Linked DNA regions of Homo sapiens. The protein of the gene in region 2 purifies or fractionates together with the protein of the main gene of each other region. This does not show direct contact. Each region holds a gene or a part of one and is shown on either strand. Other genes may lie near its edges.

What was found. The genes of interacting proteins can lie anywhere in the genome.
Region 1: the proteins of CCDC66 (region 2) and ARMC9 purify together in Homo sapiens (co-immunoprecipitation; one large-scale study listed by IntAct). This does not show direct contact.

Annotation. Positions count from the first base shown.
Region 1 is NC_000002.12:231,373,131-231,376,630, reverse strand, and holds part of ARMC9 (lisH domain-containing protein ARMC9), read right to left. Parts: 3' UTR 1-3,500. UniProt on the Homo sapiens protein: Involved in ciliogenesis. It is required for appropriate acetylation and polyglutamylation of ciliary microtubules, and regulation of cilium length. Acts as a positive regulator of hedgehog (Hh)signaling.
Region 2 is NC_000003.12:56,555,778-56,559,974, reverse strand, and holds the start of CCDC66 (coiled-coil domain-containing protein 66), read right to left. Parts: upstream 2,801-4,197; 5' UTR 2,733-2,800; coding exon 2,722-2,732; exon of another isoform or gene 2,712-2,721; intron 1,130-2,711; coding exon 1,065-1,129; intron 407-1,064; coding exon 381-406; intron 1-380. UniProt on the Homo sapiens protein: Microtubule-binding protein required for ciliogenesis. May function in ciliogenesis by mediating the transport of proteins like BBS4 to the cilium, but also through the organization of the centriolar satellites.

The sequences.
Region 1 (3,500 bases), on a different chromosome or scaffold from region 2:
GCAAAATTAAAATTGCTAATGAAGTTTTGGGCACCATTGTCATTGATAACATCTTATCAGGAGACAGGGTTTGAGAGCAACCGGTCTGACCAAAATTTATTAGGCGGGAATTTCCTCCTCCTAATAAGCCTGGGAGCGCTATGGGAGACTGGAGTTTATTTCATCTCTGCAGCCTCGACCATAAGAGACGACCACGCCCCCGGGGGAGGGGGGCCAGTTCAGAGACCCACCCCCAGGTGTGCATTCTCTTTCTCAGGGGATGTTCCATGCTGAGAAAAAGAATTCAGCGATATTTCTCCCATTTGCTTTTGAAAGAAGAGAAATATGGCTCTGTTCCGCCCGACTCACCAGTGGTCAGAGTTTAAGGTTATCTCTCTTATTCCCTGAACAATTGCTGTTACCCTGTTCTTTTTTCAAGGTGCTCAGATTTCATATTGCGCAAACACACATGCTGTACAATTTGTGCAGTTAATGCAATTATTACAGGGTCCTGAGGCAACATACATCCCCCTCAGCTGACAGGATTAAGAGATTAAAGTAAAGACAGGCATAGGAAATCACAAGGGTATTGACTGGGGAAGTGATAAGTGTCCATGAAATATTCACAACTTATGTTTAGAGACTGTAGTAAAGACAGGCATAAGAAATTACAAAAGTATTAATTTGGGGGAACTAATAAATGTCCATGAAATCATCACAATCCACGTTCTTCTGTCATGGCTTCAGCCAGTCCCTCCGTTTGGGGTCCCTGACTTCCCACAACACCTGCTGTCTTCTTTCTCACCCCCGGGTTCTGTCCCCAGTTTCCTATTTCTCTAGTCCCCCTTCTGAGATCCCATCCACCCCCAGGCTTTAGTAGACACCTTAAGATGACGACTCTGGATAGGGCTCTGTAGCCCTGACTTTTTGCTAATTTTGCAACCATTTCCTAGAAACCTGCCTGATGTTTCAACCTGGGGCTGGTGCTCCGGCCTGGACCATGCCATCCGAAAAGGCCAGAAATTCTCCCTAGAAGATGGATGGCAACTTGAAAGCCAGTGGGACCATGTCTCCACATCTGACACACTGCAGCCCCAAAGAATATATTTGTTCAATTGAATCTAAATGGAGAGGGTATACCACAATGGAAAAACAGCCCTAAAAGATTTGGTCCTGCAAAGCTCTGAACAGCATCTATGTGGTAGCTTGCAGCAGTATTGCCTCTGGTTCATTCGGGGTCCCTGTATCCACATCCTTTCACACAGACTTGGGCCTTGGCCATGTGGTCTGCTTTGGACAATGGGAGAATAGTGAACGTGATATGAGACTTGGGCTTGATTTCTCTAACTGCCATGGGAGCCCCGAGGCCACCATGTGAACAAGCCTAAGCCAGAGGAGAACCAAGGGCTCAGCCAACAGCCAACTACCAGACATGAGCGAAGCCCCTGACTGCCCTCTGACCATAAGACATAGTTGAGTTCAGCCAAGCCCAGCAGAAGAATCGCCTGTCCGTGCCCAGCCCCCATCACTGATCCAAATCATTATAAAGCTAATACATTTGTTGGTTTAAGCCACTAAGTTTCAGAGGTAGTTTGTTAATATGCAAAAGCTAACCTAATCACTTCTTAGAACAGCACACCCCAAATAGTATCTGGAGAGATAAAGCTAGGCAAACAGGCACACCACCAGCCCCAGGCTGTGCTATCAGGCACTGTGGGAGGGACAGGAGGATCCCCCAGATTCTAGGCCAGGAGAGAGGGGTGAGGTATTCACCTTGCATACAAAATTTAAAGGGCTACCCCAAAACTCAGTAATGAAGACACATGATGTAATATTTTAATGTAATATTTAAAAAAAATCAAATTGGTATCTCTGGTCCACGTCCCAGCTGCCTATTTTGTAAATACAGTTTTATTAAAACTGGGGCTGGGATTAGGGTTAGACAAGCCAGGTGGGGTCATCCAAGTACAGGGCCAGACTTGTTTTTATTAAAAAGTTTGATATTTTATCATGGATTTCTTTTCTTTACCTTTTCTTTCTTTTCTTTTTTTTTCATGAACCTTATTTGTTCAACTATTTTATTTTTATTTTTATTTTATTATTTTTTTTTTAGCTCTTTTGATTTGGGCCAAATCTTTCCTCACCTATTGACTAATCTCTGGCATCTCACTGGATCTCAAACCTCCACCTGCCTATTAAAGTCCCCACCACAGGTCCTAATTTAAGCTCTTGCCAGACAGTTCCACCTTGCTGTGAATGCAGAAATGAGATCAAGTCCCACTCAGAAGAAACCAGAAGATGTGAGGTAACCAGAGGGGCGGCTCAGCCTCCAGGGCAGAGGAGCCATAATCTACCTGGGGCCTTACCATTTTCCAGAAGGTCCAAAGATCCCTCTCTGTGGCTTCCTTGGTAGTTTTCAAGGGCAAACCTTAGGCGCCATCTGCTTGGATCTCCATCTGGAGATCTGGCCTTTAAACAGGTTTACTTGTGTTTTAGATTCTTTCCCCTTAGACTGGGGTCATACCCATCCTCAGCAAGCTCATTGGAGCTGGTAGATAGTTGGAATATTTGTGAATAAGTTGTTGGTATTTTACAAAGTATATTTCTAGCTGTCAGCCTTGGAATGCAGAGGCGTGAGCCCAGGAGTGTACTCTCCCAGGGCGTGGCGCAGAGGCCTGGGTGATATTTTCAGCACTTTCCTGGAAGAACCACACATACCCCACCTGGTAATCTCAATGTATTTTTTTTTTTTTTTTGACGGAGTCTCTGTCGCCCAGGCTGGAGTGCAGGGGCGTGATCTTGGCTCACTGCATCTTCCATCTCCCGGTTCAAGCTATTCTTGTGCCTCAGCCTCCTTGAGTAGCTGAGATTACAGGCACCCACCACCACATCCAGCTAATTTTTTGTATTTTAGTAGAGACGGGGTTTCGCCATGTTGGCCAGGCTGGTCTCGAACTCCTGGAGGCCTCAAGTGATCCATCCGCCTCGGCCTCCCAAAGCACTGGGATTACAGGTGTGAGCCACTGTGCCCGGCCTAATCTCAGTGTATTTTGACCCTAAGTTGGATACTCCCCACTTCTCTAAAAGACTATCTTTTCTTCTCCTCAAACCATCAGACATCTACAGATCAGACTTTAGCTCTTTGGTAGGCTTGAGGGAAAAGTAGTGGTTGACTTCAGACGAGGGAGACACTGACCTGACCCCGATGATTCTCCCACCCCCGCTGGACTTCTGCTGCTCCCACACCAAGGGCGGGAAAGGCTGTGCCAGCCAGTGGCATCTGAGGAATCCGTAGGGGAGTGGACTTCTTGTGGGGAGCAAGAGAGATTTTTCCATTCCACTCCTTTGCTGTTTGTCTGCAACCACTCTACACCTTTTCAAAGTCTCACCACGGAGGAGTTGCATTTTGCGGACCCTCTGCTTTTCCTCTGTCTGCACCACTGACACCAGGGGCGAGCTTTGTGTTTGCTCCCAATGCCTCCGGGTCAAGTGAGGAGTTCAGAGAGGGCCTGGTGGCTGAC
Region 2 (4,197 bases):
CCATTAAATTCCATTAAAAATTAAAGGAAATTAGAAATTCAGTTGCTCAGTCATACTAGTTACATTTTAAGGGTTCAATAACTATACATGACTAGTGGCTTCCATATTCAATAATACTGATTTTATTAATGAACACTTCCATTAACACAGATGCTTTACTGAATAGCACTTATCTAGAGAAAGAGGTTCTATTGGGCTAAACCTAAAATGATTCAATTTCTGTGAAAGGACCAATCTGAAAGCAAGAAAATAATAACTCCTCACTATAATTCCAAACCCCTTAGAACACTTGACATTTCCCAGGAATTATTTTCTAACCACTATAAATAAAACTGCATTTTACATTTGAAAACAGGTCAGGTCAAAGTTATACGGCTTACCTTCACAGAAATTTTTGATTTATGTTCTACAAAAGAAAAAAGAAATTACTAAACTATCCACCAAAAGCATACTAAGGTGGTAATGCAAGAAAACTGTAATTAATATTGTTATAAGATTTTAAGCTAGCAACATTATCCTCGAAAGCATAAACTTTAGATCTTGACTGAGTATTTTTTTCTAATCCAGTTCAAGGATTTACTTCTATTTTATTTTTGTTTTTTATCTTTCCAAGGTAAAACTATAAACAGAAAAAAAAATGCGAAGGAGAAGGTACCAAAGTACACTGAGTTTAAAAACGAATACTAAAAGTGACTTTAGCATTTTACGGTGGTCTTACTATAAACTTTTCTCAAATGATACATTCTTTACATGCAAAGAACATAATTACATAAATTTTACTTGTATTATTCATCAGGCAATGAGGATATTTGCTATATGGATATAATGAACACGCAATATACTGGAACATTAAATGTTATGAGTCTGAATACTGACAGTAGTAAGCAGTGTTGTAATCTGATTTTATTTGGCTAGAAGGAAATCTGCAGAAGTTTGAGGAAACAGCTTTTTCTAAAATATCATTTAAATATCACTCTATTACAAGCAAAAAGTCTGTTGAACTAATATAAATTTTATGTATGAATTTAAAAGTTAACATTTCAGATTTCTGTAACACAACATACCATATGGAGACAATATTAGCTTGGTTTTTCCATCCAGTAATTCAGTTTCAAGCTTTAAACCATCTCTGTAATAAAAAAAGAAAGTTGTCTCTCATTTTTAACAAACCGCAACATTTTAAATAACCAGAAATGTTCATTTGAACCTGACAATAAATCCATTATTTTGAATTTATGCAGGAATCTTGTACACATCGAACCAGTGTTTTAATTAAAAACGTTTGCAATCCAAGATAAAACCCACAACTACAGGGGGAAAATTCTTGAAACTCTTCAATACTACAAGCATTGTTATCATTAACCTGAAATCTCATTTTGTTATTGGTAAACTATAAATTAAGTTATCATACCACCATTTTTTAATAATGCTGTTACCAAAACTCCTCACATAAGTTAAAGGAACAAGATATATTTAACCGCCATTCATTAGTTTCATAATGAACTCATGACTAAAACATTCTATGGAGTGCTGGAGCATCGATATGACTACTAACAATGCCATCAAGGTTAGTAACTGCTTGAGCAAAGAGTACCACTTTCAATATTTCAAATAATACATAGTGATATTTAGTATGGTGCTTTATACGTGCATATCAGAAGCAAAGGCATAAAGTAACAGTAGCCACTGCCAACAAAACTTGAACGTCTGTTAAGGTCCTAAAACTCCACTGAGAACAAAAATGGCAGCCCATACATACAGTCCATAATTCAGAGAGAGAAAATTAAATCCAGCAAGCCAGTCAAGGGAGAGAGAGGCTGGGAAAGGTCTGATTAGGAATGCGAAATTTGCGGTGTTGCTCAGGTAGGGGAAATCAAATTACCTCACCTTAACTATTAAAGGTAAAACACTGGAAAGAATAGGTTTTACGGCTTTCCTTATTGTAGGGTTATGAACAGTTCGTGTTTATGTTGGTGAAACGTCACCAAGAAAGAAAAGAGCTTCAATGGTAAAGTACCTTCAATGACGCACTGCACTGTAATCTCCTTAAGGGACACACTATCTTATTTATTTCCATATCCCCAGATTCTAAAACATAATAACATTTGCTGAACGATGTGTAGTTAGGTCTGAGTTTGGTGGCTTCTCATCTTCTCAAAATATCAAACTTGCGAGTGATGAAGACCATGCACCAGCCCTTTTTATTTATTCACCCCTACTTAAGGAGCGCCTACTAGGTGTTAGGCACTGGTACTACATCGATTTCTTGAGAAGCCTGGTTCCCCGCCTCGTGGGCCTAAAACGAATTTGGGCGTTTCAACATTCTGCAAGACTCCAAAAACAAGGTGGCGAAGAACCCGGGGCATGGGCCAGGAGTCCTCCCCAGGAGCCGCCACGCTTCCTCTAACTGTCTCGTCATTTCTCTCCTTTCCTCCTCACCTCTCTTCCCTCCTCATCCTGAGGTAAATAAGGGACCGAAAGGGGATCACTGGCAGTTTTAATGCTAGTCATTAAGTGAAAACGTAAGGTCTGTGGAGTCGCTAAGGGCCGACCCATCTGCCTCGATCTTCTACCCGAGAACTGGGCTCTGCCCCTCTCGGCGGCGCAGGTTGGGAACGTTCTCCAGTAAAGACTCCAAGGGACAACCCAGACACACATGCCTCCCTCTCCGCTGACGACCACCTTGCTTACCCCAGCTTACCCCAGCTTACCCCTGCTTACCCCAAGTTCATGGCCTGACCTCGCACTCTCTCCACAGAACGCTCAAGCCCCTTGTGTACGTCGGTTGCCGCCGCCGCTCAGCAAGCGCTACGCCAATTGGATATAGGGGTGCCGGCGAGCTGAGCAAGTGGACCAATCAGGGTGGGGCATGCTGGCGGGTGCGCTGAGCTGGGCCGGGGCTCCCGCGGGGACGGTTGCGTATGCCGTTTGTTCCCCTTTTGTGCCCCGTTTGTGCCGTTTGTTCCCCTACGCACAGCGGAATTTGGCCTGACCCGGCTTATGAGTCTAAAGCTTCGGTGGCGGAGACCTGCGCTTCTCGCAATTGTAGCCTTCCAAAGCGCGTACACAGACACACACACACACACACACACACACACACACACACACACACACACACACACACACACACACCTTTTTGGGGTCACCATTTGCAAGTAAGTTACAGACATTGTAACACTTAACCCTTTAACATTGCAGACATTGTAACACTTAACCCTTTAACATTGCAGCATGTATCTCCTAAGAATAGATGTTCTGCTACATAACCGCAGTACAATTATTATACCTAAGATCATTAATTTCATAATAATTCTCTTCCCGATTTAATTTCCCCCACTTGTCCTAAGAATATCTTATAGGCATTTTATTTAGAAAGCAAGAGCCAATCGCGCCACTGCATTCCAGCAGCTTGGGCGACAGAGTGAGACTCCGTCTCAAAAAAAAAAAAAAAAAATGCAAGAGCCGATCAAGGATCACACATTACATTTGGTTGTTAAGTATCTTTGCACACACTCTTTCCAGACAAAAACAATGAAAGGTATTAATTATTAAATGCCTGACAAACCTTTACTTTTTTATTTTTTATTGTTGTAATATGTGTGTTAAAATTTGCTATTTTTAGCCATTTTCAAGTGACAATTCCATGATACAATGTTGTGGAATACGCCAGTATATTTTTCCAAAAGCTTTTTAGTACCCCCAAATAAAAATTCTGTACCCATTAAGCAACAACTTCCCATTTTCCTCTCCCCTCAATCCTAAGAAACCTCTAATCTTATTTCTGTCTCTAGGAATTTGCCTATTATAGATACTTCATGTCATAAAAGTGGAATCATACAATATTTGTCCTTTTGTGTCTTCTCTCAAGTAACATAATGTATTCAAGGTGCATCCATGTTGTAGGATGTATCAGAGCTTCATATCTGTTTATGATTGAATAGTATTCCATTCTATGTATATATATACCACAATTCGTTTACTCATTCATCCATTAATAGACATTTGGGTTGTTTCCATCTTTTAGTTATTGTGAATAATGCTGTAGTGAACACTGATGTACAAGTATCTGTTTGAATCCCTATTTTCAATTTTCTTGGTATACACCTAAGAGTGGAATTACTGGGTCACATGGTAATTCTATGGTTAACTTTTCGAGAAACTGCCAAACTGTTTTCATAACAGTTGCAGCATCTTACA